2 separate regions of the Homo sapiens genome follow, and region 1 is linked to region 2. The links come from fine-mapping of genetic effects on gene expression. A gene starts in region 2. The other region holds a variant in brackets. All regions are shown on one strand. Distances are from middle to middle. Region 1 has its middle 6.8 kb from the start of MIR4697. Region 2 holds the start of LINC02731 (long intergenic non-protein coding RNA 2731).

Region 1 (5,369 bases), 140 kb after region 2:
AGAGACCGGGCTAGTCCTGGGGTACTCAGCGGTCTGCATCATCACGCAGATGGTGTGCTGTAGGTAAACTAGCCAGTCTCCTGTGCCCCCAGCCTCCCTTTTTGGGCTGTTTTCCCCATTTCCATGGAACCCTTTCCTCTGCGGTCGGGGCCTAGGAGCCATCTGTCTACAAACCTAGTGTTGAAGAAGAACTGCATGATGCCCTGGTTCATCAGCCTAGAGAGGTGGGCAGCACCCTGCAATTCCCGTCCTAGATTCATCACTGCTTTTGCGAAGCTGCTTTTGCCTGTGCTTCTCAGCCTTGGTGAAGTCATCTGCATTCACAGTGGCTTGCCTTCGCCCCCCACCCCTGGAAAAAGTCCTTGTGCTGCCTGTGCCGTTAAGAAAGAGGTGACCGGCTGGGCGTGGTGGCTCATGCCTGTAATCCCAGCACTTCCGGAGGCCGAGGCGGGCGGATCACGAGGTCAGGAGATCGAGACCATCCTGGCTAACACAGTGAAACCTCGTCTCTACTAAAAAAAAAAAATACAAAAAATTAGCCGGGCGTGGTGGCGGGCGCCTGTAGTCCCAGCTACTCGGGAGGCTGAGGCAGGAGAATGGCGTGAACCCGGGAGGCGGAGCTTGCAGTGAGCAGAGAGGCGCCACCGCACTCCAGCCTGGGCGACAGAGCCAGACTCCGTCTCAAAAAAAAAAAAAAAAAAAAAGTGGGACCTTGGGGAAATCCCTTGGCCTTTCTGAGGCAGCTGCCCGCAGGGAGGGAGGCAGCCTTTCTTGGCAGGAGACACACGTCTGTGCAGACGCACAGGGCTCCCGTCTAAGTCTTCGGGGACTGCCTTGGCAGCACAGGCTGAGTGCAGGTGTCTGCAGCTCAGTGGCATCCTCCGAGGAGAAATGCCACCTTCTCCTTCTTGCGGGCAGTCCCCCTCTCTATGCCAGATCATTATGAAGCATTATCTCGCTTGGCTTTGAGGGAGAAGCACGCCCTTTCCACCCACATAAGGAGGGTGAGGGAAACGCCTCTTAGCACTTCCAGGCACTCCTCAGAAGGCCAGTGACTGGACTTCAACCTTCTGTTTCGTCTCCTTCCTGCTGCCATCCTGGTGTGCTGCTACGGCCAGCTGTGCCGCCTCTTGTTCAGCTGTGCTGGAGGTAACCAGCGCTCCGTGACAGGGCGGGATGCTCAGCTCCTGTGTGTCCTCAGTTTGGGGCCTTAATCATCAAAGGGCAACAGGAAGTGTCCCTTCACACCTGAGGCCCCTTCATCCTCTCGTGGGTGTGGGCCTTCACAGCGGCAGCTCCTTGACCTCAGTACAGCCTTCCACTGCGCTTCGTTTCACCGGCTCCTTGTGCGTCCGCCTCACTAGTGTGGAAGCCCCTTGGCAGTGGAGCCCCCATCAGTCCTGTTGGTGGCCAACCCAAAAGGCACACGTCTCAGAGGAGCAGTGTGAGGAGGGAGAAATGGCCTGGAACCAGCAGAGAGGCCTGGCTTTCCCACAGCCTACATTCTAATGTAGGGATCCAGCCAGTCACCCAGTCAATCAACAACCCAGTCCTGTGAAAGTGTCATGGGCATTATGCAGAGAACCAAGTAGGATGGTGTGGAGTGACAGGCGGGTTGTAGAACTGAGTAGGATGGTGTGGAGTGACGGGCGGTTTGCTTTCGGTTGGGTGGCTAGGGAAGATGGCTTCGAAGTCACATTTAAGCCTCCTCACATTGTTGAGAAGGGGCCAGTCAGGTACAGCTCAGCAGAGAAGAGCCTCCCAAGCAGAGGTGCTGTTTCTGCAGACCTGAAGGTAGGAGTGGATTTGGTCTGTTTGAGGAATAGAGTGAGCCATGAGTGGGAAGGGAAGGAGAGAGCAGCGGAAGAGGATGAATGACACACTAGGGCTCTGTAAAGGGAAGGAGGGTTAGATTGTATTCTCGGGGTGCTGGGAAGTCACCGGAGAGTTTTAAGCTGGGCAAAGCCTTGATCTGATTTATGTATTAGAAATACCCCTCTGACTGCTGGTGGAGAGCGGACTATAGGAGGGTGAGAGCAGAGGGAACAGAGAGATGACAATGCCATCCACAGTCCCAGCTGAGAAGCGTTTAGACCAGGACAGCCACAGCAGAGGCGGAGAGGAGACGACCAGTTTGGATCTGTGTGGGAGGGGCGACAGACTTGCTGAAAAGCTTGCCGTGAGAGTGAAGAAAAGAGAGGAATCAAGAATGACTCTGGCTTTTGACCTGAGCAACTGAGAAAGAGGACTGGGGGAGGAGGAGGTATGAAAGGGGACAGACATCAAGAGTTGTAAGGTCTGAAACGGTCCTTAAACTTCCCATTGGAGATGTCAGGTCAGATGCCACTAGATGTGTGGGCCTGGGATTCCAGAGGGACCCTATCAGTGTAGATACAGGTTAGGGAATTGTCCTCAGAGAGATGGTATTTAAATCCTAGAAGGGGAGGGTAGACAGAGAAGAGAAGGGGTGCACACAAGCAGCTGAGTGTCGTGTAGAGGTAGGTAATTAATGATGTTGACAAGGCGGCCTCAGTGGCACGGTGGGGACAGAAGCCCCGTGGGAGTGGGTTGATGAGAAAGTGGAGACAGTGACTATTGA[C/G]AAATCTTGGGCTAGGAGGCAGAGGGGAAGTTCTGATGGCACAGCTGATTGCTGAGTGGAAGTTTCCCAGGACATCATAGCTCTAGGGCTCAGGAGCACTGTGGGTGCCAAAGTGTCCTATCCAGTTCCCCTCTAGTAGATGGGTGTGCCCATCCCCTGGCTTCTTTGCATGTTGGTGGCCCATGGTTCACAGGTGCCTCCCACCCTGCTCATCACTGGAGAGGTGCCCTTCACTGACGTGAGCCCCCTTGCCCAAGAAATGACAAGCTCCTCTGCCAGGAGTGACCCTCAGCTAATGGCTGGCACAGGGATACAAAAGGCCACCTGCTTGCCTTAAAGAGAGGGTGTCTCTATGATGCTTTCCAGGATCAGGCCACAGCTAGAATTCACCTGAGATGACATCCTTCATCACTTCTTTCCCCAATCCTGTCTAGCTTTCCTTACTTCTTTAGTTTTTTTCTTGGAAGTTTCCACAATAAAACACCCCCCACCCCATTGCCTGGCTTAGGCTTTGCACCTAGAGAACCCAGTCTAAGACTGGATGCCAGGGGACTCTAAGGTTGGAACTCAGGAATTAGGTCACTCACCACTGGCTGGCAAAAGGACCCCATCATAGCGGCAGGTACAGTATTAGCAGTTGCTGGTATGTGTTAGCAGTGCAGTTGCTAAGATGGCCACCCATGTAGAACTCAGGGAAGGTACAAGGAAAAGGGATATACTGGTTCATAGAACATCTTATATTTGAGAGGTTCTGAAGAAAGACCACTGATAGGAACTGTGGGATGGAGTGGCCGAATGCCCTTGAGGCTTTGAAGAGAGGAAAGGCAGGACCAGGGCAGCCAATCTCCAATTTAAAGCAAAGGAGAGTCAGCATGCCTCCTTGGTGGCCTTAAAGAGACTCCCATATGCAGCAGGAGGGCAGAACAAGCTGAAGACCAGACCCAGGACTTAACTGTTAGAGAAGAAGAATTCTGGAGCAGGCTGAATCTCAGACCAGATGAGTCTCATATGCCAAAGTCAGGGTCTAATAGGAAAAGACTGAGACCCACCATCTGGGATGGGAAAAGAGAGAGAAATGTGTTGGAAGGCTTTGAGTCTCCAGATTCCCCAAAACTTCTGGTCCTGCCAAAATGGCCTTTCCCCGTTTCTGGAAGACAGAAACCCCTCCTTGCTTGAAGAACAGGCAGATGCTTCAAATGAAGCAGGTATTCTACAAGAAGTTCTTGACTTCCTCAGCAGCTTTCCCATCCACAGATGCCCCATTTGTCCCTTCTTATCACTTAGACCAATAAGAGAATCAAAGCTCAGCATATCCCCCTAGGCAAGCATTGGTTCTGCTAAGAGAGGAGAGGGATTTCTTCAAGGAGCTGAAGGATCTGGCTAGTGTGTGTTGGGCACAGACCAGGGAGTGTGCTTGGGGGTGAATCCTGAGGGTCCTGGGCCAAGGGGGCCAGACTAGAAAGCTCTTCAGGGGAGAGTTTGTTGTTATGGGGGCACCCACCAGTGATACAGGTTTTAATAATCTTGCCAGGGCCCCATAAGGCAATTCTTATGGCTGCTGAGTGGTTCCTAGAGGCTTGTTGAGAATGACGGCCCACATGAAATGAAATAGATGTGTCAGAACTCCCTTGCAGATCATGGCTGAAGGGATCCAAAGGCTTAGGGAAATGGGCGTGCTAGAATGGATCTACTCTAGAATACCAGAAGACCCACTGGCTGCCTGTGCTTTTTGATTGGGCTGGAGGACTCTCCATTCACCAGGGAGATAAAGGATGGGTTGGTGAGAGGGTTCCAGCATGGATGAGCAGCTCAGCACAGCTGTCCTCGGGAGGCCAGGGCTGAGCTTGAAGGTGCTGATGCAGAACTGAGTGTCTACTGAAGCCTACAGAAGCTGTTATGATTTGTGGGGAATCATGAGCAACAGTCCTTCTGAAGCCTAGAATAAGAAAAGAAATGGCATCAGTGCCACCATGAAATATTGGGCTGAAAATCCAACTGATGTGGTTAAAAAGTAAATCAAGAAAAGGTTAAAAGAAAGTAAAATAAAACATTGATTATTTTCAAGTGATATGAATATCTATATATAAAATCTGTGAGAATCTATGGACAAACCATTGGAAACAGTAAGAGAACCAAGCAAGATTGCTGAACCCAAGGTGGATGGAGTTCTTTATACCAGCAACAAAACAACGTGTTTTAAAAGGCATCTTTATAATAGTGACGACAACAACGAAACAAGAGAAAACAATGGGCAAGACCTTTATGAGTTAAATGGCAAGACTTCATTGAGAGACAAGAGAAGGTCTAAAATCACGTGGACATCAGATTAAGACAAATGAGCATCCCCGTCTCCATGTGTTGGTCCTTTCCCCGAGGATGTGGTCCCTTGAAGGGCCTGGCTTTCTGTCAGGACTGACAGTTTGCCTTGCAAGGGCCTGTGTGTTTGATACCTCTCCCCAGGGGCCAGTCCCTGTGCTTTTCTTAGAGGTTGGACCCTTCCCCTCTCGCCTACCTCTCTCTCTGTCAGATCAACTGGAGCATCGGCCTATACTTAGCACTCTGGTTTCCAATTCTCTCTTCACTTTTGGCTAAAGAAGTTATCAACTCAGCTATGCATTCAGAGGCATGCTTGCTACATCCTATACAGCATTCTAGATTTTAGGGGCAGAGGATTTTTAGGCTATCTGGTTGGCCTTGTTACCAACACTGAACACCTCCATCCTTTCTTTGTCTCTGTTCAAAGTATGCTGTTTGACTTTTCTAGATCGCA
Region 2 (5,369 bases):
GGTCCCAGGACCCTGGGTTCCCGCAAAACCTCAGGGCTCCCTGAAGTGAACGTAGGAACAAGCATGGATGGGTGGAAGAGGGCCTCTGTGAAGCCCATCCCCGGCCAGGCCCTGCTCTCTGCAGAGGTGATCTGGGTGACCCCCTCCCTCCTCCAGCTCTGCAGCAGCTCCCGGTTTCCAGCAGGGCTGGCCAGGAAGCCGTGGCCAAGAGGGAGCTGGGTAGACAGGGCCCAGAAGTCAGAGCAGTCAGGGGTGGAGCGTGCAAACTCTGCAAAGCTCTAGCCTGGCTCCACCCCTTGCCTGCCTGAAGCTCAAAAGGATGACATCACCCAGACTGAGGGCTCCAGCCTAGATGGGCTTCATTAGCAGGGAAAGCCGGCACCTGCAGGGCTCAAGGACTTCCCGGGTTTGCGGGAGGCGGTCCTCTGCTCCTCTTGTGAATCCGGTTCAGCTTTAGGGGTCTCTGCTCTGAGTCTTGGAGACAGCACGTGGCTATTCGGGCTTCCAAGTCTGGGGCTATGTTTCTTCTACCAGAGACCAATCTCTCGGGCACCAGCATAAGCACTCTTTCCTTCCACCCTGCCAAACGCTGCTTTTCCTTGCCAGCACCGGCTGCAGCTCCATGTTTCTGAGGCTCCGTGGAGAGGATTAGATCACTGATTCTAACCAGGCAGAGTCAGCCCACAGCAAACCTAATGTCCCCCTCCCTGTGGGCTCATGTACCCTCCCCAGCCCCCAAACCCTACTGGGTGCTTGTGTTGCCTGCTTGCAAAGCATATGCTTGGCTGCTTGCTTGGTGTCTGCTGTTTATCTGTCTCTTCCTACTGAACTTCTGTTTCTTCTTGGCCCATCTGGCTCCTGTGGTGCCCGTCTTTTGCTCGGATTGCGCCTGCAATCGACACTGTCCTCCCCACCCGCTTCCCCTCTACCCTCTTCCCTCCCAGGGCTTGCCTCTTGTGCACTTTGGGCCACTGGCAGGCACCCCTGACCTTGGGTGTGGGACCAGCGAGGACTGCCCCAGGCACAGTGGGGAGCCTGATGTCGGGGTGTCCCTGTAGTGTTCTGACGATGTCCTTTGTGGAGGGGCTTGAGGGGGTGTGGAGGGCAGTGTGGGAGTTGCCTTTGGACTGGGGCGAAGGCTAGGTCCTGGTGGAAACCTCCCTCTCCCTGGCCCTTCTGAGCTTCTTGGGGTGGGGGCACCACTCACACCAGACTATTGTAGAGTGATGGGAAAATGGCCTGTGGGTAGCAGCTGGAGAGAATGAGGTCAAGGAAGCCCCAAGGCTCCTCTGACCCAAAAACCAGGGTCCACTCAGATCCTTTCCGCTCAGAGGTTATGGCAGTCTGGTGGCTTGGGTGGCGGCAAGGAGCTGCAGATGCTCACATCCAGGCAGCCAGGGGTGGAGAGGGCTCTGGGCGTGGCAGCTGTGCCAGCAGTGCTGCCGGGGATCTGTCCCCACCCCGCCTCGTCCCAGCCTCTTGGCGCTAGTTCCCGTGCAGCCCAGACGTTTCTCCCCCTCTCGCCCCTCCCACAGCGTGCACACCCCTGCACATGCTCCCACCCGAGGAAGAGCTAAGCACACTGCAGCGGTTCACACTCACCCCTCCAACGCAGCCCGCTTCCTTCCGGGCGTGATGTGGCAGCTCATGGCTTCCCTGGGATTCACGAGGCCCTGGGAGGCAGACGGAGCAGGTGGGCGGAGCCTGGAGGAGGATGGAGGAGAAGAACCGGAGCCCCCACGGGGCAGGGCTGCCATTCGTCTGCCTCTCTGGACCAGGGTTGCTCCTCCAGGCTAAGGCCGGCTGCCGAGGAGGCTGTGCTGGGCCTGGAGTCAACAAGGATGCACGTGCTGGGGGCCATCAGCTGCTGCTCCCATACAAGCATCTGCTCCCACCAAACCCACAGGGCTTGGCTGCCAGGCCTTGCTGTGTGCCCACTCTGTGGCTCTGTTCTTTGTCTCTGTTGTTCCATCTGCCTGCTCCACCGGCTGCCTGGCTCAGCTCCTCTCGGCCTCTTTATTTCTCTCGGAATCTTCTTCCTGTTCCTCATTTCTCCCCATCCTTCTCCCCGTCTCTGTGCAACCACATTCATGCCCTGGTCTCCGAGACCTTCTTTCCTCCTCTGCCCTTATCAGTCATGCCTCTGTGTGCTTCTCTGCGTCTCCCCCATGTTCATTCTCCTGCTCTCTCTCTTGCTGCCTCTCATGCATATTCAGCAGCTCCTTGAAAACCCACCTAGCTTATTCTGCGTGTTAAATGCCTAGATCTGCTTCAGGCATGAGACTTCTTAGCCTCTAGCTCTAGGACGCCACCTCAGATCACAGTCTGTACTAATTGTGTAGAGGATGTTGGTGAGCCCACCTACCTTCCACCCAAGCATGGCTCACTCTACAAGTTCTCCTCTTCTGACCTGAAACAAGGCAGCCCCAAGGTGTGTCAGGCCCACAGCAAAAGCCATGGTGCACAGGAGGACGAGGACAAGGACGAGCACAAGGACGTCTCCTCTTAAAGAAACCCGAGGGCTTCAGTCCTGGAAATAAACGTAGGATCCAAAGTGTCTTCATCCTTTGGTGCTTTTACAGTCCGTTTTCATCCGCTCTATTATCCCCTTACAACTCCGTGGGAGGGGTATCAATGAAGCAGCTGTGGAGTTCAGACTAGAGGGCACTCCACCAGTGCGGCCCAGCATTTGAGGAACAGAGCTGGCATCAGAAACTTGGCTTCTGAATTTTTAGCCCTTGTCTGTGGCAGGTGAATGGACAGAAAGAGTCTGGAAAAACGCAGAAAGTGGCAACTGAGGGACAAGAGGACTCAGAAGCAGAGCAGAACCTGGGCTCAGCCCCCAGGGGAGGGTACAGAGATGAGGGAGACGGGGGAAGGCAGGAGAGGGCATGAGTGGCAGGCATCCGGCACCTTCTACCCCCTGTTTCCACCAGCCTTTAGGAAGAGAGGACTGGGGTGCTTGCCCTCACAGGTGACCCACATGTCACGTCACTCCCCGAGCCCCTGTGGCTTCTCCGTCTCCTTTCTCTGCCCTGTTATCTGGCCTCATGGTTTCTTCTCTGCTCCCATCTTCTCTCTCCTTCCCACCTGCAGATCACCTGCCTGCCTTTCCCCTTCATCCTGGGGGCCCAGCCCTTTCCTCTGCCCCAGTCCCCTCCCGTCTTTCTCATCCACCGACCTCTCTATGCTCCCCACCGTCCTCCTCCTAAGCCCCACCTGGCATTTGTCTTCTCACTGCCAAATGAGCCAGCGTGGGCTCGAGGTAGCCAGGAGCAGGGTGGTCGCAGTTCTCCACAGCTCCTGACCCTGGCCTGAGCCCCCAGGGAGCTCCCACGCACCTCTTCCTTATGAACACTGGGGGCGCTGGAGGCTCAGCCCCCGCCCCACGCATACCTGGGGCAGGCTTGCTTTCCAGCCCTTGCAGACTCACGAGGGGCCTCATTCTGGGACACGTTGGCAGCTGTGGGGTCGACACACCTCTTCTGCAGGGAGGGCTCCCGACACTTCCGTCCTCTACCTGCACAGCCGGCCTCCATTAAACACACGCCTCAGCCGGCCTGGAGACTCCATTTCTATCTCCCTGGCGTGGCTTTTCCTCCACCACCAGCTGCTTCCTAGTTTTTACTTGAGGCTCCTGGGACATTGTCCTAATTTTTTCTTCATTTTTCTTTGTATTTGTCTAGGAAAAAAAAAATCAACCCTAAGAAACCCTTGAAACCACACTATGTGTTTTAAACCCTTGACCCCACCACAGAGGACTCTAACGTTGGCCTGGGCCACTTTGCCTGGTCCCCAGGTCGGGAGTGAGCAGCAGGTGCCCTTGGCTCTCTTTTATCTCTTTTATTCCCCTTCTTCTGTGGAACCCCCTCTTGTTGTGTCTGGAGCTCTGGGCTCTGTGCAGTATAAGGAGTCCAGGAGAGAGCTTGAGATGTGAGCTTCCCAGAACACCAGGTGCAGGGGATGTGACACGTTAGGGGAGGAGAGAACTCAGTGGGGAGAAGCAGTTTCTCCCTCTAATTTCATATAGAAGCCGAAAGAGCTCGGTTAAGTCCAGCTTAGTTCAGCTGGGTCCAGCTGTGAGGCTTTGGGCCCCTCACTAAATCTCCCTGAGCTTCAGGTTCTTATCTGTAAAGAAGGAGCAATAATAACCCTGTCCCGCAGGATGGTTGAGAAGATTAAATGAGAAACTACAGGTGCAAGCCCTTCGTAAATTATAAAGAGCTCTAGAGAAGTTATTATTTATGGAGCAGATGTGGAGTATTTAGGCGTCAAGACTAAAGGAAGAGAGGATATGGCAAGCAGCATTTACTCGCTAAGAGGTTTAGGAGGGAATTCTGAGAAAGAACTCAGGAGCGTGAAGACTGCTCGAAGCCCAGGGGCCTCAGGAGAGGGGAAGGCACAGCTCCACTGCCCCACGCCCTCCATATGCTACGAGTGCCATCGTTTGCTTGTACAGACACTGCTGGCATGTTACAACCCTTGCATTGAGACTCTTGTGTTGGGGTATGGAAATGCAGGAGCCAGGTTGGCACATCCAGGTGCAAAGCTGAGGTCCCCACAGGAGAGAGCATGGGTGGTGAGTTTGTGAAGTGGAGTGCTGATGTCTGGAGCAGCTTGACTTCCTCCCTGGATGAGGAGACAGAAGACAGGCTTAACACTCAAAGACAGACACCAAAAACATGATGTCACTATAAAATTAACAACTGAAGTAGGTAAAAGAAACTTTAAAACATTAAAAGGCATTAAAAAAATCCTTTATCTTCCCCCCCTGCATGAGGGCAGTGGGCTGTCTTTAAAGCTCCCATCTGTGCTGGATCCTTGTGGAATTGTTAAGTTCCTCTTGGACAAGGACCTTGTCATTTTGGATTACATTTCTGCGCAGTGCCTTGCAGACATATCCACTTAATAGATATTACTTGACCGAGTGATTGGAAAAGAGCAGAACAAAGAGAGAGAGAAATGAGAGGTGAGCTGTTTTTATGTAAGCCATTGTGTAGGAGACTTGAGCATTCCAGCTTCGGTGCTGATTGAGGCACAATTTAAATCTGACTTCTTGCCTGAAAAGAAAAGAAGTCATAACACCAACAAACCAACTGCCTTGTACTCTTTCTATTTTGGCAGGGTCTGGATAGGATAGAAACATTGGGCTGTTGGGGTTGGAAGGCATGTCAGTAGGGGCAGGGAGGTATGGAATACATATAAGGAAGTTCCAGAGCTCAGAGAAGCAATTTAGAGAATCTGAGTGGACTAGTTGGCCCAATTACTACAGAAGAGGAAACTGAGGCCCAAAAAGGCAAACTGTCTTATTCCAACCCACCTTGCTTTTTGGTGGCAGAAATGGGAACAGAACATAAGTCTTCTGACTC

Evidence for each region. PIP is the estimated chance that this variant, and not a neighbour inherited with it, causes the effect. A credible set is the group of variants that fine-mapping cannot tell apart.
Region 1: its variant is the best candidate, but not a certain one, in a credible set for the expression of LINC02731 in tibial nerve (GTEx, PIP 0.67).

Annotation. Positions count from the first base shown.
Region 1 is chr11:133,889,051-133,894,419 of GRCh38, reverse strand. No RefSeq gene overlaps it. Among named protein-coding and RNA genes, the nearest start is that of MIR4697, 6.8 kb to the left of the region's middle. The variant C/G (reference allele first, on the strand shown) is at 2,600.
Region 2 is chr11:134,029,094-134,034,462 of GRCh38, reverse strand. LINC02731 (long intergenic non-protein coding RNA 2731) reads right to left here and starts at 2,191. Exons shown (of 3, transcript NR_027276.1): 1 at 1,603-2,191. RefSeq lists enhancers at 672-1,399, 1,400-2,127, 2,828-3,327.